Linked DNA regions of Homo sapiens. The protein of the gene in region 1 interacts with the protein of each later gene in a pairwise test. Each region holds a gene or a part of one and is shown in the gene's direction. Other genes may lie near its edges. The genes, in order: SUFU, BRAF, ZNF763, QPRT, SLC41A3, MAGEL2 and ZNF114.

Region 1 (3,500 bases):
ACAGGGAGGGTTTCCCCTCAGAGGAGCCCCTCACCTGGATCTTCACCCCATTATCTTTCTTCCTTTGTGCCCTACCTGGGTGCTCAAGGTGTACGGGAGAAGACAGGTAGAGCTGTGGCCTGGGGGTACAGAAGGGTCTGCAGTGGAGGGAGGCTGGGAGGCCCTGGGGACAAGGACAGGGAGGGGGAGGGGTGAAGGAAGGGGTCACAGTTGGAAGAGGAAAGACACCCTCACCCAGGGCGTGGTGGGGTGCAGACCTGGGATCAGCTTGGCCTGGCTCTGCCTAGCAGCCTGACGAGAGGGGTGGGTGGGGAAGAATGGCCCAGCAGATTGAGGAAGGCCGGTTTTAGAGGGCCTGAGAGCCCTTGGACGTTGGTATTGGCTGTGAAAACTTCTTTAGCGGATGAAGTTGGTGTTTGTGCCAGCCAAATAGTGGGGCCAGACTCAGCATCAAAGCGAGAGGCAATGAGGTGTCAGACTAGAACAGCAACGTGGAATGCTGGGAGGTGACCTAGAGAAGAGGAACCTCAAAGAAGGCTGGAGGAACTCAGTGGCTGATCGAGCACAGCAGGTCAGGGGCTTGGGAGCTTCCAGCCTGGGAGGATGTGGCTACTGTGAATGGGAATGGAAGTTGGGAGTCCCTTTGTCATCTGTAAAATGAGACGTTGGTCCACAATCTCCAGATTCTCCAGCTCAGACATTCTTGGATGTACCTTCCAGGGCACTTCCAGATTCCAGATAGGGCTTGTATTCCAAATCCAAACAGTTTCCTTTTGTCCTTCTACGGTGAGGGGCAGAGGGGGACACTAGAGCCTGACTGGGCAGCAGCTTTAATTTAATTTTTTTTCCTTTTAATTTTTCTTTTCTGTTCCTTTTTCTTCCTGAGATTCCTTTTTACCGGCCCCACCAGTGTTCATCTCCCTTCTGGGAGCAGCATTCCCAGCTCTCCCAGTGTCCTCCCTCCCCTCCCCATTGTCCCCTGACCCCTTTCCTTCTATGCCTCAGTCTGATATTGCAGGGAGGTGAGGGTGTGGGGGGAATGACAGCTGGGGACAGGCCTCAAACACTTCCCTGTGTCCCTTGAACAGATCACAGTGAGCTCATCTCTCCTCCATGGTCAGAAGAGAGGTATAACGCTTGGTGGTTGGCAAAAAGATCATACATTTAAAAATAATAATAAAAGCCTGCCTTGTGCCTTCACAGATTCTGTTGACCGAAGAGTTTGTAGAGAAAATGTTGGAGGATTTAGAAGATTTGACTTCTCCAGAGGAAGTAAGCTTGTTTGACTTTTCCTGACAACAGGTCCCGTCTCTGGGACCATGTGTGTGCGTGCGTGTGCACGTCTGTGCATGCATGTGTGCGTGTGTACCTGTGGTGCGTGTGTGCTTGCATGTATCTGTGTGGCTGCATCTGTGGGCTCCTCCCCAAGGTGCAGGGATAGGCTGGAGAGGAGACTGTAGATTTCTCTTCTGTTTCTATGCACCCTCACCATCCCCTGCCCTACCCCCAGCCCTTGTAAGGACACCCAGCAAATCGTCTGAATTGCCAGCTCCTGAGAGCCTCATTGAAGAGGAAGCCAGGGCCTTCAGGCTAGTACGAGTTCTCCCCAGCCCCTGCTGTTCCCTGGCAGATTCTGAACAGAACGCCCATGTCTGTTGCCAGAGAACATTCCGCTGGGGAGTTCTGGTGGGCAGCAAGGGACTCCTGCTCTCGCCTCGGGCCACCCAGGAGCCACTCTCCCTTCTTCGTCCTCCAGCCATGAGCTGTGCCTCTTAGTCTCCCTCTTCCAGCCCTGGCTCAGAGCTGGAGGAGCTGGCAGGCCAGCTGTGGCTGTGCCTTCTTTAGCTGCTCCTCTGGGGTAGAGGAATGGAGTCCATAATCCCCTTTGTTTTTTCTCCCTTGTTCCCGGCATCCTTATTTGCGAGGGCTTACCTCATCCTGGAAAATCCCTTCCCCTCCCCCGCTCCTGCCCGCAGCACCCCAGTGGGATGGGAGCTTTCCTGGCCCCAGTGCCCCATGGGTTAGTGAACTCTAGCAGGCTGGCCGGGCCTCTGGAGAGCTCTCCTGGGCCCTGCCCTGCCTGTGGCAGAGGCAGACCCTTCCCTTGTCCTGTCTGCCAGGAAATGTGCTTGGGGGAGAACTCCTTCGCCTCCCAGGGGCCAGGCTTTCTACCAAGAGGGAGGCCAGGCGGGAGCTAGGTTCCAGCCAGGGCTGGAGCTTCCAGCTTCCAGGGCTCCCTGGGCTGCAACAGCCAGGACACAGGCCTCTGGTGTTTAGGAAGCTGAGGGGAGTGCACAGGGCGGGACCGTCCAGTCCAGGTCTCCAGTTGGACAGGAACTCCCCAGAGCCAGGGTCACCTCAATAGAGCAGGGTCTCCTCTGTCCTCTGGGATGCAGCTTGAGAAATTTGTTCATTTATATATTCCAAAGCCATCAAGCACCCAGTCCATGCCAGCCAATCAACCCCCACAAGTCACTGGTCCCTGAGTCCCAGCTCCCCATTCAGTCAGACCAGAGCCAGCTGCCCAGAAGCGCTTCCGGAGAGGCCTTGTCGCACTGGGATGGCGCTGTGCCAGGCTGCTGCTTTGAGCTTGGGGGTAGGAGGGGGACAGTCCAGGCAAGAGGGACAGAAGCCTGGGGGAGCAGAGGAAAGTAGGTCACTAAAAATGACTTTTTTCTTTTTTTCCTTTTCTGTCCAGAGGCTGTCCCTACACCCTGCCTCACTCGCCACTTTGGTCCTGGCAGAGACAGTCCCCCAGCAGAGGGAGCGAAGAGGGAGGCAGCCAGGAAGGGTCAGGCTCGTCTGCCTCCAGCCCCAGACCGAGGCAGGCTGAGAACACTGTTCTCTCCTTTCCACCCTGCCCTGACTTCCGGCCTAGCCAAATTAGAAAAGACAGACCCTGGGCCGGGCGCAGTGACTCATGTCTGTAATCCCAGCACTTTGGGAGGCCGAGGCAGGTGGATCACCTGAGGTCGGGAATTTGAGACCAGCCTGACCAACATGGAGAAAACCCATCTCTACTAATAATACAATAATTAGCCGGGCTTGGTGGTGCATGCCTGTAATCTCAGCTACTCGGGAGGCTGAGGCACGAGAATCGCTTGAACCCGGGAAGCAAAAGTTGCAGTGAGCCGAGATCGCGCCATTGCACTCCAGCCTGGGCAACAAGAGCGAAACTCCGTCTCAAAAGAAAAAGAAAAGACAGACCCTGTGTCTAAGTTCCGGTATCAGTCCCAGGCAGTGAGCATTTATTGAGCTCCATCTGTGTGCCAGACTGCATGCAAAGTTCTACAGTAAAGAGGGAATAAGAGGCATCAGCCTCTTCCCCTTCCCCTACCAGAAACTCCCAGGTGAATGGGAGAAACAGAACTGTAGGCAAATCAGTGTATCCTGGGATGGGGTGGGAGACATTTGGCTCTCCTTGGCCACCACTGGGACCACTCTGAGGCTGGTAACCCTGGGAAGTGGTGCGAATGAATACAGGGAGCAGGGTGGGGATT
Region 2 (3,500 bases), on another chromosome or scaffold:
GTATAATAAAATAAAAAATAAAAATAAATTTTTTCCATCCTAATATTGACTTCAGTCTTAAATTTAAGTTTTGTATTTTAAGAGTCATACTTTTAACTACTATTCTTCCAGAGAATTTTTCTTAAGGGGATCTCTTCCTGTATCCCTCTCAGGCATAAGGTAATGTACTTAGGGTGAAACATAAGGTTTTCTTTTTCTGTTTGGCTTGACTTGACTTTTTTACTGTTTTTATCAAGAAAACACTTGGTAGACGGGACTCGAGTGATGATTGGGAGATTCCTGATGGGCAGATTACAGTGGGACAAAGAATTGGATCTGGATCATTTGGAACAGTCTACAAGGGAAAGTGGCATGGTAAGTATGTAATGTGGTGACATTGTGACAAGTCATAATAGGATATGTTTAACAACTTTTATTTTGTAAAAAATATCATCAAAGGAAATATTCACTGTTCGCATCAATAAACTATTTTGATTAGTTTCAGGACTCCTCCAAAAGTTTCTAACAAAAATTATGGGAAATAAAAACTGTTCACAGCAGTCGGGACTCCTACCATTTTATTACAGTAATAATTTTTAAAGGGGAATTCCTCCAGGTTAACTAGTCCTCAAAAGGATTTTATTTTCTTTTAGAGTCTTTCAGCTGATAATTTTATTTGTATTATAAGTCACAAGTAAACATATTAAAAATGTACTTAATGGCTGGGCGCAGTGGCTTATGCCTGTAATCCCAGCACTTTGGGAAGCTGAGGCTGGCTGATCACGAGGTCAGGAGATCAAGACCATACTGGCCAACATGGTGAAACCCCATCTCTACTAAAAATACAAAAATTAGCTGGGTGTGGAAGCACGTGCCTGTAGTCCCAGCTACTTGGGAGGCTGAGGCAGGAGAATCACTGGAACCCAGGAGGCGGAGGTTGCAGTGAGCTGAGATTACGCCACTGCACTCCACCCTGGTGACAGTGAGACTCCGTCTCAAAAAAAAAAAATTAACAAAGAAATATAAGTGGCCAGTAAACATATACAAAATGTTCAGCCTTACTAGTTATCAAAGAATTGCAAATTCAAAAAATAGACATCATTATTTGCCTCTTAGTTGGACAAAATCTTTTTAAATTGGATTATATTAAGAGTAGTGGATGTATTTTCATCAAAGGTTTAATATCAATGAAAAGTGAAAGTGAACATGTATCCAACTAATAGAGAATTGGATAAATTTATACCATCATATGTGATTATATAGGAGTTAAAATGGCATGGTAGAGGTACATTTATTGATGTAGAAAGGTGTCTTTGGTATATGAAATTTTTCAAAGCAGTATGTGTAAGATACCATATTATGGAGCTCATAGAAATATATAACATAATTTTTTATATGACAGTATTTTAGGCCAGGCACAGTGGCTCACGCCTGTAATCCCAGCACTTTGGGAGGCCGAGGCAGGTGGATCACCCAAGGTCAGGAGTTCGAGACCAGCTTGGCCAACATAGTGAAACCTCATCTCTACTAAAAATACAAAAAATTAGCCAGGCTTGGTGGTGGGCGCCTGTAATCTCAGCTACTCAGGAGGCTGAGGCAGGAGAATTGCTTGAACCTAGGAGGTGGAGGTTGCAGTGAGCCGAGATCCCGCCATTGCACTCCAACCTGGATAACAGCGAGACTGTCTTAAAAAAAAAAAAAAAAAAGACTGTGTTTTAGTTTTTATCTCCTTAATCTATCTTTTCACAGGTGTTCATAAATATTCACACTAAATTCATGTAAAAGCCTAATAACATATAATGTCACTTTTGAGTGACATAATTAAGGGAATTTTTTTATACCTTCAAAATGTCTTTAAACTTTTCTTAAGTGCTGTACAGTATTTTATGATACAAACAGTAGAATAAGCACTGTATTACTTTGATAATTGAGGAAAATCAATGTTGATTTAACTTATTAAAATATACATACAGGTTGAGTATCTTTATTTATTTATTTTTGTTTGTTTTGTTTTGTTTTGAGACAAGGTCTCGCTCTGTCGCCCAGGCTGGAGTGCAGTGGCACAATCTCAACTCACTACAACCTCTGCCTCCCAGATTCAAGCAGTTCTCCTACCTCAGCCTCCTGAGTAGCTAGGATTATAGGCGCGTACCACCACCCCTGGCTAATTTTTGTATTTTGAGTAGAGACGAGTTTTGCCATGTTGGCCAGGCTGTTCTCAAACTCCTGACCTCAGGTGAGCCACCCACCTTGGCCTTCCAAAGTGCTGGGATTACAGGTGTGAGGCAGCACACCTGGCCAGGTTGGGTATCTTTAATCCAAAATCCCAAACCCGAAATGCTCCAAAATCCAAAACTTTCTGAGTGCTGACATGATGCTCAAAGGAAATGCTTATTGGAGGATTTCATATGTTTGGATTAGGGATGTTAAACTGGTAAGTATAATCAAAATATTCCAAAATCAGAAAAAATTTGAAATTTGAGACACTTCTGGTCCCAGGCATTTTGGATAAGGGATACTCAGCCTGTGTATAAAAGTGCACATAAATTAGCCAGGCATGGTGGCATGTGCCTGTACTCCCAGCTATTGAGGAGGCTGAGGTGGGAGAATGGCTTGAGCCCAGGAGTTCAAGGCTGCAGTGAGCCATGATCACACCACTGCACTCCATCCAGCCTAGGTGACAGAGCAAGACTCTGTCTCTAAAAAAATTAAATAAACAGAACATTACTAGCACTCTAGAAACACCCTCCCATGTCCTCTTCTAGCCAATCACCTCTCTCCCAAGGGTAACCACCACTGTGATTACAACAGGAAGTGCATAGTGTGTACTCTTTTGTGTCGGCCCTTTTCACTCAACATTGTTTATAAGATTCATCTATATTGTTGTGTGAAGTTGGAGGTCATTCATTCTCTTTACAGTATTTCATTGTGTGACTATAACATGATTTCTTCTTTCATCTGTTGCAATTGGATCGTTTCCAGTTTGGGGCTTTGATTGATGCTGGTGCTGTAAACATTTTTAGTGTATGTCTTTTGGTGAACATGTAACCATTGATGGGTATATATACCTAGGACAGAATTGTGAGACCACAGGGTATGCATATGTCCAGTTTTAGTAATGCTGCCAACAATGTTACAAAGTAGTTGTACCAATTTAAACACCTACTGGCAGTGTTGACGTTACAGCTGTTTCACATAAAGTTTTTTTTTTTTGATGATTTTAATAAAATATCATTTTCTTTTTTTATTATTATTATACTTTTAAGTTTTAGGGTACATGTGCAAAGTGTGCAGGTTAGTTACATATATATACATGTGCCATGCTGGTGTGCTGCACCCATTAACTCACATGAAGTTTTTTTTAAATTTTAGTGACAGTTTTAGTCATTTTCCTAATTGAAAGTATCATAAGTAATCCATAAATTTGAAAAAAATGTTAACTACTCTGATAAAAAAGTTTTATAGTTTCCTACTTTTAAGCAAAATTCCATAGGGCCTGGTAATTGTAGTTTCAACATTAC
Region 3 (3,500 bases), on another chromosome or scaffold:
GGCATCTTCAGGCTGTTTTCTTAATGTCAAACATGTTATGACCATGGGTTGTGACTGGCAAGGAGTGTTTCTTGTTAGTCTCAAGATGGAGCTGATTGGTCTTTCTCTGGCTCCCCTAGGCACTTGCTTCCCTAACACTTATATAGGCAAAAGGCAAATAAATGTAACAGGATTACATTTTCCATAGAAGGCTGATGTATGAGGTACAATAATTTAATTTTTTTTTTTCTTTGAGACAATGTCTAGCTCTGTGGCCCAGGCTGGAGCAGTGGTGCGATCATGGCTTACTGCAGCCTTGACCTCCCCAGCTCAAGCACCTCAGCCTTCCCAGTAGCTGAGAGTACAGTTGCCCACCAGCACACCTGGCTAATTTTTTGTATTTTACAGAGGTGGGGTCTCGATATGTTGCTCAGGCTGGTCTCTTGCTCCTGGCCTCAAACAGTCCTCCTTCCTTGGCCTCCAAAAGTGCTGGGATTATAGACATGAGCAAATGCATGTGGATAACAACTTAATTTGTAGTGGTTTGCTTTTTTCCCCCAGAGCTTGTTTTCTTTTCTTTCTAGCTGGTTTATATTTCCTTTTCAATTTAAAAAAGTGAATTTAATATTCTAGCTGAAGACAACATGATAGCCATGGAGTCTTTGTGTGAGAAAGTTAAGAGGGAAATTAGTGTACTATAGAGATCAGTAGTAGAGAGGGGCCTGGCGGGATGGCTCACACCTGTAACCCCAGCACGTTGGGAGGCCGAGGCAGGTGGATGGCTTGATCTCAGGAGTTGAAGACCAGCCTGGCAACATAGTGAGACCCCATCTCAATTGTGAAAAATCATATTAAATTTAAAAAGACAGTGACAAGGGAAAGGGTCTTTCCTGTTTCCCTTCAGTCATTTACAACATTTTACAAAACACTATAGGTAAGAAAGAAGGCAAATCTGTAATCAGGGAAAGGAGGGTTCCAGCTAGCTAGGTGAAAGTTGTGTGTCATGTGACTCAACCCCATGATCACATTGCTTCAAGATGATGTAGAGATTCATCAGCTTAAATTTTTGAATTACTTGGTTGTTTTTGCTTGTTTGTTTGTTTTGAGACAGGGTCTCACTCTGTCGGCTAGGCTGGAGTGCAGCGGCGTGATCTCAGCTCACTGCAGCCTCTGCCTTCTGGGTTCAAGTAATTCTCTGGCCTCAGCCTTTCCAGTAGCTGGGATTACAGGTGCGTGCCACCACACTCGGCTAATTTTTCTATTTTTAGTAAAGACAGCGTTTTATCACGTTCGCCAGGCTGGTCTTGAACTTCTGTCCTCAAGTGGTCCATCCACCTTGGCCTCCCAAAGTGGTGGGATTACAGGTGGGAGTCACTGCACCGGGCCTGACTTACTTGTTCACACAGCCTATATAGGTAGAAAATTTCTAGTTATGTAATCAGCGGTTAATTGGTGGATTGTGCCTGATTAAGCATAAATTTCATTTCCCTATACATTAGTAATTTTCACGAGTTGTATTTAAATATGATTTCAGGATCCTTAGGTAGGACCTTAGGACACCTCACACAGTTTGGCCTCATTGCTTCTTATTTAAATTTTTTCACATTCTCCAGGGCAACTGGTTTCCCCTTACATTTTCCAAATATATGGGATGCAGCGTCTCAAATCCTCCACCCTCATACCACAGCCTAACTCTTCAAGGGCTTGCAGTGAAATCTGTTTCTGAACATTTCACATGAGAGGAAAGCAGAGAATAACCACTAGACATTTGCCTGAAAAATCCTTTCTGCCTCTCCTCCTTTTATCTTTCCTAGACACAGACACCTTATCAGGATGTCTTTGGGATGAGGTTCCTTTCTGGAAACTTTACAGGGTGATGTGTCTTCAGTACACCCTCCTATCTTTTCCTGGTTTTGGGTTTTAGAATTGCCTGGGGCTGGCTCAAGATCCCCACAACTGCCATGTCTCCTGGAGGGTCTCATGGGTATTAGTGCCTTAGGGGAGTGGGACCTCCCGAGGGAGCAGCTGAATGCCTTATGGTGGAGGAGATGCCTGGTATACTCTTCATCTACATAACCAATTCTTGGGGTGCTCAGCTTCTGTCTCCCAACTCCACTTTCCATTAATTGGAGACACATGGCTGTTCTGCCAATCGGATGTTGCTAATGAGGAAAAACAGAGATGATTCCTGTCCTCTGGATTGTCTCAACTGTGAAGAGAGAAATATCCCAAAAGACAAGGAAAGGCCACTCCAACAAGGATGTATTTAGCTGTCCCACAGGGAGGTGGTCACCAGAATGCAGCTGAGTAAGTCCCATATGTGAGTTAACCACATGGAGGAACTGGGAGGAGGTGGAGAACCAGAAACTGTTCAGAGTTTGAGTAAAGTTTTCTTCTGTTATAACAACGTTAAATCCATAAAGAAAATGCATGCTAAGGTAACATATAAATAAAAGAATTCACTGTAACAGGTAACTCTAGAATTAATTAAATTATTGTATATGGAGATGATGAGTAGTAGATTGATTATTCTCCTGTAGATAACCATTTGTCCCTGCTTTTTCTGTTAAGTGTTCACCACTTGTATCATTGGCTGGCAATACCTGGTTTGTCATAGTTTCATATTACCTTAAATAGATGTCCAGAGCAGGTGCAGTGGCTCACACACTTTGGGAGGCTGAGGCTGGCAGATCACCTAAGGTCAGGAGTTTGAGACCAGCCTGACCAATATAGTGAAACCCCATCTGTACTGAAAATACAGCATTAGCTGAGCATGGCAGCGCATGGCTATAATCCTAGCTACCTGGGAGGCTGAGGCAGGAGAATCGCTTGAACCTGGGAGGTGGAGGTTGCAGTGAGCCGAGATCCCGCCTTTGCCCTCCAGCCTGGGCAAGGAGAGTGAAACCTCATTTCAAAAAATAAAAAAAAAACTAAAAAACTAGATGCCCTGGTCTCACAATTTGCTGTTTTCCATTGGTCTGTCCTTCCATCTCTCTGTTAATACCATTTTCTCTTAATTAGTGTAGAGTTCAAAGCTGCAGTGTATAGTAGGGATATTGCTTCTCTATCTTAGTCATCTTGGGCTGCTACATCAAATTACCATAGACTGGGTAACTTAAAGAATAAACATTTGTTTCTGACAGTTCTTGAGGTTGTGAAGTCCATGTTCAGGGAGTTGGCAGATCTAGTGTCTGGTAATGGCCCGCTTCCTGGTTTGCAGATGGTCATCTTGTGGTTTCTTCACATGACAGAAAAGAGAGGAAGCTGGCTGTCCTGTGTCTTCCTATAAGAGCACTAATCTCATTCGGAAAGCATCTACCTTTATGCTCTCATCTAATCCTAATTAATTCCCAGAGATGTCAACTTCTAATACTATAGTGGGGGGTAGGTTATTAATGTGTGATTTTTTTAGAGTGATGCAAATATTCATGCCGTAACACCCTCCAACCATATTCTATAGAGCATCTTGGCTGTTCTTAGTCATTGTCTTCTATTTCAGTTTTTAGAAGTACTTTTTTCTT
Region 4 (3,500 bases), on another chromosome or scaffold:
CATAATCATATCACTCCCTCTTTTAAAATTCTGTGATGGGTCAGGCATGGTGGATCACACTTGTAATCCCAGCACTTTGGGAGGCCGAGGTGGGAGGACTGCTTGAGCCCAGGAGTTCAAGACCAGCCTGGGCAACATAGCGAGACCCCCCGTCTCTACTTAAAAATAATAAAATAAAATGAAAAGAAAATTTTTTTTGAGATGGAGTTTCGCTCTTGTTGCCTAGGCTGGAATACAATGGTGGGATCTCAGCTCACGGCAACCTCCACCTCCCGGGTTCAACCGATTCTCCTGCCTCAGCCTCCTGAGTAGTTGGGATTACAGGCATGTGCCACCATGCCCGGCTAATTTTGTATTTTTAGTAGAGACGGGGTTTCACCATGTTGGTCAGGCTGGACTCGAACTCCTGACCTCAGGTGATCGGCCCACCTCGGCCTCCCAAAGTGCTGGAATTACAGGTGTGAGCCACTGTGTCCGGCCAATAAAATGAAATTTTATGATGGCTTCTGCGATCTGGCCAAATTCCTCAGCTAAATAGTTTAGTTCTTTCTCCCTGTGGCCTCTCCTCCCACCATGTCACCTGTGAATCCCACACTGCCCCCACCCCGACACTGTCTGCAGGTGAACAGATCAGTTTTCTCAGCCCCAAATGTCAGCCCCACCCCACACCTCTGCCTGGCAAACATCACTCACCGGTCCTCAGAGACACCTAGTCATTTATTCCATGAGTCCACCACACTTGAGAAACGCTTCTTTTCTTCGCGAGCACGCCTACCCTGTGCTAGACAGTGTTCCTAAGGGCTTTCAAACATAAAGTCTTTTGTTTTTTGTTTTTGAGACGCAGTCTTGCTCTGTCGCCCAGGCTGGAGTGCGGTGGCACAATCTTGGCTCACTGCAACCTCCGCCTCCCAAGTTCAAGCAATTCTCTGCCTCAGCCTCCCGAGTAGCTGGGATTACAGGCGCTCGGCTTTTTATTTTTTTAATTTTTTTTATTTTTTGTATTTTTAGTAGAGACGGGGTTTCACCATCTTGGCCAGGCTGGTCTTGAACTCCTGACTTCAAGTGGTCCACTTGCCTCGGCCTCCCAAAGTTCTGGGATTATAGGCGTGAGCCACTGTGCCCAGCCTCCAACTCCTGGCCTTGTCTTCCTCCCACCCTGGCTTCCCAGAGTGCTGGGATTAACAGACATGAGCCTCCACACCTGGCAACTTCTTTCCATTTTTCACTGATTCTCTGACACATCCTCATTGAGCACCTGCACTGTGTGGGGTGTTAATAATTGCTAGGCATGGAGGCAACAGCGTGGGCAGCTCTTTCTCTTACTTGTCAGGCTTTAGCCTATGCTGTTGCAGGACTGTGCCTTGGCCTGGAAGCCCCTTCCCTTATCCTCATCCCCAATCTCCCCCTTCAGCTCTTGTTCCTCTTGCAGGTCTTCCCTTAAACATCACTTCCTCAGCAGGGGCCTCACAGACACGCCCGGAGGTTAGATCCTGGTCCCTCTGTGCTTCCTGTTCTTCCCCCATCATCACAGTCTACGGCTGTTTCCTCTCGATGGGCAAAGACTGTGTCTGGCCATTGAGTTTTCTGCTATATCCAAGTGCTTCGTATACTGAACCATATAAATGTGCTGCTTTTATTGGTCAAAACGGCCAAATATTGGCAATTTTATATTGGTTAGCTTCATAGTATGTGAGCTAGGATACTTATCCCATCAGAGAGGTTGCGTAGCACAGTGAATCAGAGCCCAGGCTCTGGGGCCGCACACCTGAGGTCCAGCCCTGGCTCTGCCACTTGTCACTAAGTGATTGTGGACTGGAGACAACCCTCAGGGGCCTTGGGTTCCTAATCTGTGACAGGGATGACAATAATGACCTCCTCGTGCTGTTATAAAATACAGAAATGTACTAAAATACAAAAATTGGCCAGGCATGGTGGCACATGCCTGTAATCCCAGCTACTCAGGAGGCTGAGGCAGGAGAACTCAGGAGGCAGAGGCTGCAGTGAGTCTACTTTTATTGCCAAAGCTCGGGGGTCCATCCCTTTTCCATTGCATGCCACTGCACTCCAGCCTGGGCAACAAAGTGAGACTGTCTCAGAAAAAAGAAAAAGAAAAAAATGTTTAAAAGCCAGGAGTTTGAGACCCTGTCTCTATTAAAAAAAAAAAAAATTACCTTGGCATGGTGGAGCAGCTACTCAGGAGGCTGAGGTGAGAGGACCACATGAGCCCGGGAGTTCAAGGCTGCAGTGAGCCATGATTGCACCACTGCATTCCACTCTGTCTCAAAAAGAAAGAAAGAAAAAAGTCAAGAGAACTGGAGCTGAAACCATGAAAGGTCAGTTTTCAGCAGGAGAGTGATCAAAGAAAACCAGAACTAGACAGTCGTTAAAATAGCAAAAACATATTGCATTCCAGACTATTGCTGTAGGGGAAGAGTGACCTTAGATCAGAACTGGGCTGAACTCTACACCATGGGGGTTATAGCCAACGAGCAGAGTTGGGGGCAGTGGATGGGACATTACCATGAGAAAGCACTGGGGGTTGGGGGTATTCTGACAAGACCAACCTAAAGGGATTCTTGCTGAGGGCAGGCCAAGGTGGTCAGACAGCGCCTGGGGGAGAGTGGAGAATGAGGACCCCCATCAGGGATCGGGGGCAATCAGATGTGGAGGATGAGGGACTGGCTAAGCTGACTTAGCAGTATTCTTGCTAAAATTGGACGATGCAGAGGTGAACACGGAAGTCCAAGGCCTAACTGGAAAAGAGCTGAGGGAACCTGAGTGAGGTTTGGCTATAGACAGAACCTCTGAGTGAGCCCATCAAAGTTACTTTATTTATTTGTTTGTTTATTAATTTATTTAAGACAGAGTCTCACTCTGTCGCCCAGGCTGGAGTACAGTGGTGCTATCTCGGCTCACTGCAAACTCTGCCTCCTAGGTTCAAGCAATTCTCGTGCCTCAGCCTCCCGAGGAGCTGGGATTACAGGCACATGCCACCACACCCAGCTAAGTTTTGTGTTTTTAGTAGGGACAGGGTTTTGCCATGTTGGACAGGCTGGTCTTGAACTCCTGACCTCAGGCTAATTTTTTGTTTGTTTTTATTCTCTTTTTTTTTTTTTTTGAGACTGAGTTTCGCTCTTGTTGGCCAGGCTGGAGTGCAATGGCGCGATATTGACTCACTGCAACCTCTGCCTCCTGGGTTCAAGCGATTCTCCTGCCTCAGCCTCCCGAGTAGCTGGGACTACAGGCGCACACCACCATGCCCGGCTAATTTTTGTATTTTTAGGAGAGACGGGGTTTCATAATATTGGTCAGGCTGGTCTCAAACTCCTGATCTCAGGTGATTCGCCTGCCTCAGCCTCCCAAAGTGCTGGGATTACAGGCGTGAGCCACCGCGCCCAGCCTTTTGTTTGTTTTTAAATTTAACTTTTTTTTTGAGACCGAATTGCACTCTGTCACCCAGGATGGATTGCAATGGCGCAATCTCAGCTCATTGCAACCTC
Region 5 (3,500 bases), on another chromosome or scaffold:
TAGTTGTTGCCAAATGCTTTTTCTGTGTCTGTTGAGCTATGTTTTCTCCCCATTATTCTATTAATTTGGTGTATTACATTGATTTTCATATATTGAACCAACTTTGCATTCCTGAAATAAATCCCACTTGGTTATATTGTAAAAGTCTTTGTATGTACTAGTGGCTTGAGTTTATTAGTATTCTGCTGAGGATTTTGTGTCTGTATTCATAACACACATTGGTCTGTAGCTTTCTTGGGTTGTCTTTACACTGGTCTCATACAAGCGGTTGGGAAGTGTTCCCTTCTCCAATTTGTTGTTGAGAGTTTATGAAGGATTTGTGTTATTTTTTTTTAAATGCTTGGTAGACTTCTCTAGTGAAGCCATCTGGTGTTAAGCTTTTCTTTGTGGGAAGTTTTTTGATTACTAATTCAATCTCTTTATCTGTAGATCTATTAATATTTTTTATTTCTTCACGAGTCAGTATTACTAGTTTGTGTTTCTAGGAATTTGTACATTTCATCTAGGTTTTCTAATTTTTTTAGCTTTATTTATTTTTTAACGTTTAGGTTCAGGGGTACATGTGCAGGTTTGTTATAAATTAGGTATCATGGGGGTTTGGTGTACAGATGATTTTGTCACCCAGGTAATAAACATAGTACCTAATAAGTAGTTTTTTGGATTTTGTTTGTTTGTTTTTGTTTTTTTTCTGAGACAGGGTCTTGTTCTGCCACCCAGGCTGGAGTGCAGTGGTGCAATCTCGGCTCACTGCAACCTCCGCCTCCCACGCTCAAGCGCCACCTGCCTCAGCCTCCTGAGTAGCTGGGACTACAGGTACACTCCACCATGACTGGCTAATTTTTGTATTTTTTGTAGAGGGTTTCACCATCTTGCCTAAGCTGGTCTTCAACTCCTGAGCTCAAGCAATCTGCTTGCCTCGGCCTCCCAAAGTGCTGGGATTACAGGCATGAGCCACTGCATCTGGCCAGATAGGTAGTTTTTTTGATCCTCTTTCTCCTCTCACCCTCTGTTCTCAAGTAGGCCCTGGTGTCTGTTGTTCCCTTCTTTATATGCATGTGTACCCAATGTTTGGCTCTCACTTATAAGTGAAACATGGTATTGGGTTTCTGTTTCTGCATTAGGTTGTTTAGGATTATGGCCTCCAGTTCCATCCATGTTGCTGCAGATGACATGATCTTGTTTTTTCATGGCTGCATAGTGTTCCATGGGCATATGTACTACATATTCTTTATTCAGTCTTCTGTTGACAGGCATTAGGCTGATTTTGTGTCTTTGCTATTGTGAATAGTGCTGCGATGAACATACCTGTGCGTGTGTCTTTATGGTAGAATGATGTATATTTCTTTGGGTATACACCCAATAATGGGATTGCTGGGTTGAATGGTACTTCTGTTTTAAGTTCTTTGAGAAATCACCTCCACTGCTTTCCACAATGGCTGAACTAATTTACATTCCCACAAGCAGTGTATAAGCATTCCCTTTTGTCTACAACCTCACCAGCATCTGTTATTTTTTGACTTTTTAATAATAGCCATTCTGACTGGTGGCTTTTCCAATTTGTTGGCTTACAGTTAATCATATATTCTCTTATAGTTATGTTTAGTTTTGGTTGTAATGTTTCCTCTTTCATTCCTAATTTAACTATTTGAGTCTTCTGTCTTTTTTTCTTCATCAGTCTACATAAAGGATTGTCAGTTTTGTCGATCTCTTCAAGGACCCAACTTTTGGTTTTGCTGGCCTTTTTTTTTTTTTATTTTTTTTTACAATTCTCTTTCATTTATTACCAGTCTAATCTATATTAATTCCTGCCTTCTACTTTTTTGGGTTTAGTTTGCTCCTCTTTATCTTAAGGTGGAAAATTGATTTATTAATTTGTTCATTTCTTTTTAAAGAAATTGATAGTTATAGCTATAAACTTCCCTCTAAGCACTACATTAACACATGCCATGATTTTTTGGCATGTTGTATTTTCATTTTCATTCATCTCAAAGAAATTTCTAATTTATCTTGTGATTTTTGTCTTTGACCCATTACTTATTTAAGAGTATGGGCTGGGGCATGGTGGCTCATGCCTGTAATCCTAGCACTTTGGGAGGCCGAGGTGAGCAGATCACTTGAGCTCAGGAGTTTGAGACCAGCCTGAGCAACACAGTGATATCCCATCTCTACAAAACTTTAAAAAATAATTTAGCTGGGCATGGTGGCACACACCTGTAGTCCCAGCTACTTGGGGGGCTGAGAAGGGAGGATTACATGAGCCCCAGAGGTCTAAGCTGCAGTGAGCTGTGATCATGCCATTGCACTCCAGCCTGGGTGCCAGAATAAGACCCTATCTCAAAAAAAAAAAAAAAAGTTGTTTAATTTCCGCATATTTATAAATTTCCTAAATGTCCTTCTGTTATTGATTTCTAATTTTATTTTGTTGTGGTTGGAAAACATATTTTGTATGATTTCAGTCTTAAATTATTGAAGTTATTTTTCCTAAGATAGATCAAGCCTGCAAAATGTTCCATGTGCACTTGATAAGATTGAGTATTCTGCTATTGTTGCGCGGAGTGTTTTGTATAGATGTGTTTGATCTAATTGGTTTATAATGTTGTTGAAGTCCTCTTTCTTTTGTTGAAATTCTGTCAAATTGTATTATCAATTGTTGGAAGTGAGGTATGTCCAACTATTATTATTGAATTGTCTTTTTCTTCCTTCAGTTCTGCCACTTTTATGTATTTGGGGGCTTTGTTGTTAGGCATATGTACGTTTGTAATTGTTATAGCTTCTTGATAGATTGACCCTTTTATCATTATCAAATATCCTTCTTTGTCTGTAGTAAGAATTCTTGTTTTTATGTCTGTTTTGCCTGATATTATTAATAGTATTAAAGCCACTCCAGTTATCTTTTGGTTATTGTTTGCATGGTATATTTATTTAAATCCTTTTACTTCCAACCTATCCATTTATACTTAATGTAATAATTGATAAGATGGGATTTATGTCTGCCATTTTGCTATTTGTTTTCTGTCTGTCTAATGTCTTTTTTCCCTGTTTCCCCATTACTGCATTGTTTTGTACTAAGTAGATCTTTCCTAGTGTATCACTTTTATTCACTTGTTATTTCTTTTATATTTTTTTTTCTTAGCAGTTGCCCTGAGGATTACAATCAGCACCTTGGTTTATAATAATCGTGTTTGGATCAATAACAACTTAATTCCAACTTGATTTATGTGGTTGTCTTTAAATTGGATAAGAGTAAAAAGAGTTACTAACAAAAATGTGTTTATACTTAAAAAAAAAAATCTGTCTAGGTGGTTACCTTTGCCGATGCTCTTCCTTCCTCTGTGTGGATTCTAGCTAGTGTCTAGGATCCTAATTCGGCCTTAAAGACTCCCTTTCGTGTTTCCTTTAGGGCAGGTGTGCTGGGGACGAATGCTCTGTGTCTGTTTATCTGAAAATCTCTTAATTTCTCCTTTACTTTGAAAAGATAATTTTGCTAGTTAAGAATTCTT
Region 6 (3,971 bases), on another chromosome or scaffold:
TATTTAGTGCTTTGTATATTTCCAGAAAGCTTTTCAATTACTGAGATTATCACTTCCTCTCACCATAAAGTTGTATAGCATTGCCCAATAATACTATTGTCATCTGCTTTATCTGTTAATACTTGATTTGTCTCATATTTAAACTGATTTTTGTCACGAGAAGTTTCCCCAGAAATTTTTTTATTCTTTGCCTGTTTTTCCTATATATCCAAATATATCAATTTTTGATCTATTTATATACCCATTTTGTTATCTTCAGGTGCGTTATTTGGTTTTCATTTTTTAAATTTCTTTCCCATTCTGCAGATGAAAAATACTGAGAAACCTACTCTGTTCCTGCATCCGAGCCATTCCACAGGCAGTTTTCCCATACTAAAAATGCTGTCTTCCACTGATGTGTGGCATGTCTCAGTTCCGTGACTTCTTTTCCTCTCTCTCTACTCGCTGCTGTCCCTTTTCTCCATGTGTCTCTAACATGCCTGTGTTCTTCAAGACCCAGTGCAACCACATTCCCTCCCACAACTCTATTTTCATGAGGAATAGCCAAGCAGGACTCCCAAGACATCATACAGGAGTGCCTACAGGGTATCTCTCCTTGGCAGTCCCACAGCACCGCAAATGCCCTGTGTCTGCCAATACTCATCAGCCTCTCTTCCCGTGTGCCTCTCCTGGGACCCTAAGAGAGTAACAGTCCCTGCAACTTCCCACTTTCTCCAGGCAGGGACTTGTGTGCCTTTTCCATGTCTTTGACTCCTTTATTCAATTATAATACAGGTATCTGTCTGCTATAACTCCTGGAACTCTCTTATGTAAATGCGCTTTTTTCATTCTCCGCCTCACATCTTAGCCCAGACCACACCATCTCCCCCCGCCGTCTTGGATACCTTCCATGTTTCCAGTGGTCTGCTCCCACTCCACACTGCAGTACAGTGATTTTTCTAAAACATGGATGGGTTCCTGTCACTCCCCTGTGAAAAGTCATCCATGTGGAGTCTGACTGGTCTGCATTTGGGGACTGGACAGAGTGAGAAGGGATCCTGTGTCAGCCAGGACTCCGGTAGACGCCCCTATGCAATATCCACTTGTGGTGGTCGGGGGCGGGGAAGGGGCGGGATTGAGCCCCCTTCCCCCCTCCTCCTTACTGCGGAAAGCTGCGGAGCGAGCAGCACTCACTTCCTATTCAGCATTCAGCAGGGAGGGAGCCTCTGAACAGCCACGTAGGCATTCTCTTCTCTCTGGAGGAAAAGGCCCAGCAGCTGTCCGAGGAAAAGACCCACCAGCTGTCAGCAAAGGGACATGTCGCAGCTAAGTAAGAATCTGGGTGACTCGAGTCCTCCGGCGGAGGCCCCGAAGCCGCCTGTCTATAGCCGCCCTACGGTTCTGATGCGGGCCCCGCCCGCTTCCTCCCGGGCTCCGCCAGTCCCTTGGGATCCACCTCCAATTGACTTGCAGGCTTCATTGGCCGCTTGGCAGGCACCTCAGCCTGCCTGGGAGGCCCCACAGGGCCAGCTGCCCGCCCCGGTGGTTCCGATGACCCAGCCTCCTGCCCTAGGGGGCCCGATAGTCCCGGCTCCCCCGCTGGGGGGCCCGATGGGTAAGCCTCCGACTCCCGGGGTCCTGATGGTGCATCCTCCACCTCCGGGAGCCCCGATGGCCCAGCCTCCGACCCCGGGAGTCCTGATGGTGCATCCTTCAGCTCCCGGAGCTCCCATGGCCCATCCTCCTCCTCCGGGGACCCCAATGTCCCACCCTCCCCCTCCGGGGACCCCAATGGCCCATCCTCCTCCTCCGGGGACCCCGATGGCCCATCCTCCTCCTCCGGGGACCCCGATGGTGCATCCTCCTCCTCCGGGGACCCCGATGGCTCATCCTCCCCCTCCGGGGACACCGATGGCTCATCCTCCCCCTCCGGGGACACCGATGGCTCATCCTCCACCTCCGGGGACACCGATGGCTCATCCTCCCCCTCCGGGTACACCGATGGCCCAGCCTCCAGCTCCGGGAGTCCTGATGGCCCAGCCTCTGACTCCGGGAGTCCTGATGGTCCAGCCTGCTGCTCCGGGAGCACCGATGGTCCAGCCGCCTCCAGCAGCCATGATGACCCAGCCTCAGCCTTCAGGAGCACCGATGGCCAAGCCTCCAGGTCCAGGAGTCCTGATGATTCATCCTCCAGGTGCGAGAGCTCCGATGACCCAGCCTCCAGCTTCAGGAGCACCGATGGCACAGCCGGCGGCCCCACCTGCACAGCCGATGGCCCCACCTGCACAGCCGATGGCTTCTTGGGCCCCGCAGGCTCAGCCTCTGATCCTGCAAATCCAGTCTCAAGTTATAAGGGCTCCTCCGCAGGTTCCCCAGGGCCCGCAGGCACCCCCAGCGCAGCTAGCCACACCCCCGGGCTGGCAGGCGACCTCGCCAGGATGGCAGGCCACGCAGCAAGGCTGGCAGGCCACTCCCCTGACTTGGCAGACCACGCAGGTCACCTGGCAGGCACCAGCCGTTACCTGGCAGGTGCCGCCGCCCATGCGCCAGGGGCCCCCGCCCATCCGCCCTGGCCCACCACCCATCCGCCCTGGCCCACCACCGGTGCGACAGGCCCCACCGCTGATCCGCCAGGCCCCACCGGTGATCCGCCAGGCCCCACCCGTGATCCGCCAGGCCCCACCCGTGATCCGCCAGGCCCCCGCTGTGATCCGCCAGGCCCCACCTGTGATCCGCCAGGCCCCACCTGTGATCCGCCAGGCTCCACCTGTGATCCGCCAGGCCCCGCCGCTGATCCGCCAGGCGCCGCCGCCCATCCGACCTGCCCCACAGGTCCTGGCCACCCAGCCACCGCTCTGGCAGGCCCTGCCACCCCCACCTCCACTGCGGCAGGCCCCGCAGGCTAGGCTGCCGGCCCCGCAGGTGCAGGCGGCGCCGCAGGTGCCTACGGCCCCACCTGCTACGCAGGTACCCGCGGCGCCGCCCGCTGGCCCGCAGGTGCCCCAGCCTGTGCTGCCGGCCCCGCTGTCTGCCCCACTGTCTGCCCCGCAGGCTGTGCACTGCCCTTCCATCATCTGGCAGGCCCCCAAAGGTCAGCCCCCGGTGCCACACGAGATTCCAACGTCAATGGAATTCCAGGAGGTGCAGCAGACACAGGCGCTGGCCTGGCAGGCCCAGAAGGCCCCCACTCACATCTGGCAGCCCCTGCCTGCCCAGGAGGCCCAGAGGCAGGCTCCCCCCTTGGTCCAGCTGGAGCAGCCCTTTCAGGGAGCCCCGCCCTCCCAAAAAGCCGTGCAAATCCAGCTACCCCCCCAGCAGGCCCAGGCATCGGGTCCGCAAGCGGAGGTGCCCACACTGCCGCTCCAGCCTTCCTGGCAGGCACCGCCTGCAGTCTTGCAGGCCCAGCCCGGACCCCCGGTAGCAGCGGCAAATTTTCCCCTGGGCTCCGCTAAATCATTGATGACTCCATCAGGAGAATGCAGGGCCTCTTCTATAGACCGCAGGGGCTCCTCTAAAGAGCGCAGGACCTCCTCGAAGGAGCGCAGGGCCCCTTCAAAAGACCGCATGATCTTTGCTGCCACCTTCTGTGCTCCCAAGGCAGTGTCAGCTGCGCGAGCACACCTGCCAGCTGCCTGGAAAAACCTGCCTGCCACACCGGAGACCTTTGCTCCCTCCTCAAGTGTCTTCCCAGCTACCTCCCAGTTTCAGCCTGCCTCTCTGAATGCCTTTAAAGGCCCCTCTGCTGCCTCAGAGACCCCAAAGTCACTGCCATATGCTCTGCAGGATCCCTTTGCCTGTGTAGAGGCCCTGCCTGCAGTTCCATGGGTCCCACAGCCCAATATGAATGCCTCAAAGGCATCGCAGGCAGTGCCCACCTTCCTGATGGCTACAGCAGCTGCCCCCCAGGCAACTGCCACCACTCAAGAGGCCTCCAAGACCTCCGTCGAGCCGCCACGCCGCTCCGGCAAGGCCACCCGGAAGAAGAAGCATCT
Region 7 (3,500 bases), on another chromosome or scaffold:
AAGCCAGCAGCATGGTAACAGAGCAACAGGCTCGCCACTGAGACAGCAGGGTTTGCAACAGAGAAAAGAGAAAGTTGCATGATTACATGGTGCCAACCGAGGAGATGGGAGGAGACGCTCAAATTCTTCTCCCTGGGGGGTTCTGGGGTTTTTGTTTTTTTTTTGTTTTTGAGACTGTGTTTCACTCTTGTTGCCCAGGCTGGAGTGCAGTGGCGCGATCTCGGCTCACTGCAACCTCCACCTCCCGGGTTCAAGCAATTCTTCTGCCTCAGCCTCCCGAGTAGCTGGGATTATAGACATGCACCACCATACCTGGCTAATTTTTGTATTTTTAGTAGAGACGGGGTTTCACTGTGTTGGCCAGGCTTGTCTCAAACTCCTGACCTCAAGTGCTCCGCCCACCTCGGCCTCCCAAAGTGTTGGCATTACAGGCATGAGCCACTGCTCTCATTTTTAAGGGGATCATGGAGGATAAGGGACTGGAGAATTGGAGACGTTGATTGGTCAGAGGAAGGGGGATGAAATCATCGGGATGAGGAAAGTACATTCTTTGGTGCGTCAGTTTCTCACGGCATTCCTCAGATCAGTGAGCATAGTCATTTCATCAGAATGCAGGACCTGAAGGAATATCTCAAAGAGAAAACTTAATGTTTTATAATTTTCAAGTTGTTATCTACAGAGCAGCTAAGGAGACCTATAGGCCAGGCACAGTGGCTCACACCTGTAATCCTAGCACTTTGGGAGGCTGAGGCAGGAGGAGGATTACTTGAGGCCAGGAAGTCGAGACCAGCCCAGCCAACATGGCAAAACACTGTTCTTTTTGTCTTTAAAAACAATTTTTTTTTAATTAAAAGGAAAAAAAAAGAAAGAAAAAAACAGGCACTCTGTTGCCCAGGCTGGAGTGCAGTGGCTCAGTCTCAGCTCACTGCAATCTCTGCCTGCCGGATTCAAGTGATTCTCCTGCCTCAGCCCCCTGAGTAGCTGGGATTACAGGCACACGCCACCATGCCCAGCTAATTTTTCTATTTTTAGTAGAGACGGGGCTTCACCACATTGGCCAGGCTGGTCTCAAACGCCTGACCTCTGGTGATCCACCCACTTCAGCCTCTCAAAGTGCTGGGATTACAGGCGTGAGCCACTGTGCCTGTCCAAGCTTATGTTTTTTGACTTTTATCCATCCTCTCATATTTTCATTTTTCCCTGCTAAAGGCCTGTTCCTTTTCTCCTTAAAATTGCACATGGAGCCAGCTACTCGGGAGACTGAGGCAAGAGGATCACTTGATCCCAAGAGCTCAAGGCTGCAGTGTGCTGTGATCACACCTATGAATAGCCAGCCACTGCACTCCAGCACCTGGGCAACCTAGTGACACCCTCATCTCAAAAAAATAAAAATTTCACATGGACTCTCTGTCCAATTCTCTTCCACTTAGAATTCCTGATCGTTTCCTTGATCTCTGCAGAACTGTTCCTCAGTAACATGACACTCTCCATGTTGAACCCCTGACCTTACCGTCATCACATTCCTGACACTGCAGAATCTCTGATGTCTTTCTCTGCTTCCTTCCTCTTGCTTTCTTCCCCTTCACATTTTTATCATACATGTTGAGTGAACATTTAGAAAGAAATCCACACAGAGGCCTGGCGCGTTGGCTCATGCCTGTAATCCCAGCACTTTGGGAGGCTGAGGCAGGTGGATCACATGAGGCCAGGAATTCAAGACCAGCCTGGCCAACATGGTGAAACCCCATCTCAACTGAAAACACAAAAATTAGCCAGGCATGGTGGCACGCACCTGTAATCTCAGCTACTCAGGAAGCTGAGGCCAGAGAATTGCTTGAACCTGGGAGGCGGAGGTTGTAATGAGCCAAGATCATGCCACTGCACTCCAGCCTGGGCCACAGAGTAAGACTCTGTCTAAAGAAAAGAGAGAAAGACAGAGAGAACGAGAGAGAGAGAGAGGAAAGAAGGAAGGAAGGAAGGAGGAAGGAAGGAAGGGAAAGAAAGAGAAAAGAAAGAAAGGAAGGAAGGAAGGAAGAAAGAAAGGATGGAAGGAGCGAGGGAGGGAGGGAAAGAAAGAAAGAAAGAAAGAGAGAAATCCACACGGAGATTGCCTATGTCATCATCTCTAACCCACCTTTACTTTCAACAAAGAATTTAACTTTTGTGCCACTGTATTTCAGATTGGGCAACTCCATGTAAAACCAAAGACGCAACCCCTCAGCCGGATATTCTTCCTAAAAGAACATTTCCTGAAGCCAACAGAGTGTGTCTCACGAGCATCAGTTCCCAGCACTCCACATTAAGAGAAGACTGGAGATGCCCCAAAACAGAGGAACCACACAGGCAGGGGGTGAATAATGTGAAGCCACCTGCAGTTGCCCCTGAGAAAGATGAATCTCCTGTTAGCATTTGTGAAGATCATGAAATGAGGAACCACTCTAAACCTACCTGCAGGCTTGTGCCTTCACAGGGAGATTCCATAAGACAATGTATCCTAACACGTGACTCAAGTATTTTCAAGTATAATCCTGTCTTAAACGATAGTCAAAAAACACATGAAAACAACGAAGACGATGGAGTCTTGGGGTGGAACATTCAGTGGGTTCCGTGTGGGAGAAAAACAGAGCTGAAATCAAGCACATGGACTGGCAGTCAGAACACTGTGCATCATATACGTGATGAAATTGATACGGGGGCCAACAGGCACCAGCGGAATCCATTTGGAAAAGCTTTCCGTGAAGACGGATCCCTTAGGGCACACAACACTCATGGTCGAGAGAAAATGTATGATTTTACTCAGTGCGAGAACACCTCCAGAAATAACTCAATTCACGCCATGCAGATGCAGTTGTATACCGCAGAGACAAACAAGAAGGATTGTCAAACTGGGGCAACCTCTGCCAACGCTCCAAATTCCGGTTCACACAAGAGTCATTGCACTGGAGAGAAAACCCATAAATGCCCCGAATGTGGGAGAGCCTTTTTTTATCAGTCATTCCTTATGAGACATATGAAAATTCACACTGGAGAGAAACCGTATGAATGTGGGAAATGTGGGAAAGCCTTTAGATATTCCTTACACCTTAATAAACATTTAAGAAAGCATGTTGTGCAGAAGAAGCCCTACGAATGTGAAGAATGTGGGAAAGTCATTCGGGAGTCCTCAAAATATACACATATAAGGAGCCACACTGGAGAGAAACCCTATAAATGTAAGACATGTGGAAAAGACTTTGCAAAGTCGTCAGGACTTAAAAAACATCTTAAGACTCACAAAGATGAGAAGCCCTGTGAATGAAAGGAAGGTGGAAAATTTTTCATTAATTTTCTGACTGTACCAAACATGTGAGGAGGACATATTGGAAGGGAGCTCAAGGGGTTAGCATGAGTGAGAACATCTTCCCTGAACTCTCGTATCTTACAGAAATGTGAAAAAAAACCCTGTGAAGGTAAAGTCTACAGAAAGCCTTTCATCTTCATTCATCTTGAGTAGACATTTG

Evidence for each region.
Region 2: the proteins of SUFU (region 1) and BRAF interact in a protein complementation assay, tested with the Homo sapiens proteins (one large-scale study listed by IntAct).
Region 3: the proteins of SUFU (region 1) and ZNF763 interact in binary tests that used the Homo sapiens proteins (3 or more experiments, as listed by UniProt).
Region 4: the proteins of SUFU (region 1) and QPRT interact in a two-hybrid assay, tested with the Homo sapiens proteins (one large-scale study listed by BioGRID and IntAct).
Region 5: the proteins of SUFU (region 1) and SLC41A3 interact in binary tests that used the Homo sapiens proteins (3 or more experiments, as listed by UniProt).
Region 6: the proteins of SUFU (region 1) and MAGEL2 interact in binary tests that used the Homo sapiens proteins (3 or more experiments, as listed by UniProt).
Region 7: the proteins of SUFU (region 1) and ZNF114 interact in binary tests that used the Homo sapiens proteins (3 or more experiments, as listed by UniProt).

Annotation. Positions count from the first base shown.
Region 1 is NC_000010.11:102,625,972-102,629,471, forward strand, and holds part of SUFU (suppressor of fused homolog), read left to right. Parts: intron 1-1,203; coding exon 1,204-1,272; intron 1,273-3,500. UniProt on the Homo sapiens protein: Negative regulator in the hedgehog/smoothened signaling pathway. Down-regulates GLI1-mediated transactivation of target genes. Down-regulates GLI2-mediated transactivation of target genes. Part of a corepressor complex that acts on DNA-bound GLI1.
Region 2 is NC_000007.14:140,778,430-140,781,929, reverse strand, and holds part of BRAF (serine/threonine-protein kinase B-raf), read left to right. Parts: intron 1-236; coding exon 237-354; intron 355-3,500. UniProt on the Homo sapiens protein: Protein kinase involved in the transduction of mitogenic signals from the cell membrane to the nucleus. Phosphorylates MAP2K1, and thereby activates the MAP kinase signal transduction pathway. Phosphorylates PFKFB2.
Region 3 is NC_000019.10:11,968,040-11,971,539, forward strand, and holds part of ZNF763 (zinc finger protein 763), read left to right. Parts: intron 1-3,500.
Region 4 is NC_000016.10:29,685,680-29,689,179, forward strand, and holds part of QPRT (nicotinate-nucleotide pyrophosphorylase [carboxylating]), read left to right. Parts: intron 1-3,500. UniProt on the Homo sapiens protein: Involved in the catabolism of quinolinic acid (QA).
Region 5 is NC_000003.12:126,070,625-126,074,124, reverse strand, and holds part of SLC41A3 (solute carrier family 41 member 3), read left to right. Parts: intron 1-3,500. UniProt on the Homo sapiens protein: Na(+)/Mg(2+) ion exchanger that acts as a predominant Mg(2+) efflux system at the mitochondrial inner membrane.
Region 6 is NC_000015.10:23,645,068-23,649,038, reverse strand, and holds the start of MAGEL2 (MAGE-like protein 2), read left to right. Parts: upstream 1-1,171; 5' UTR 1,172-1,296; coding exon 1,297-3,971. UniProt on the Homo sapiens protein: Probably enhances ubiquitin ligase activity of RING-type zinc finger-containing E3 ubiquitin-protein ligases, possibly through recruitment and/or stabilization of the Ubl-conjugating enzyme (E2) at the E3:substrate complex.
Region 7 is NC_000019.10:48,283,581-48,287,080, forward strand, and holds part of ZNF114 (zinc finger protein 114), read left to right. Parts: intron 1-2,180; coding exon 2,181-3,298; 3' UTR 3,299-3,500. UniProt on the Homo sapiens protein: May be involved in transcriptional regulation.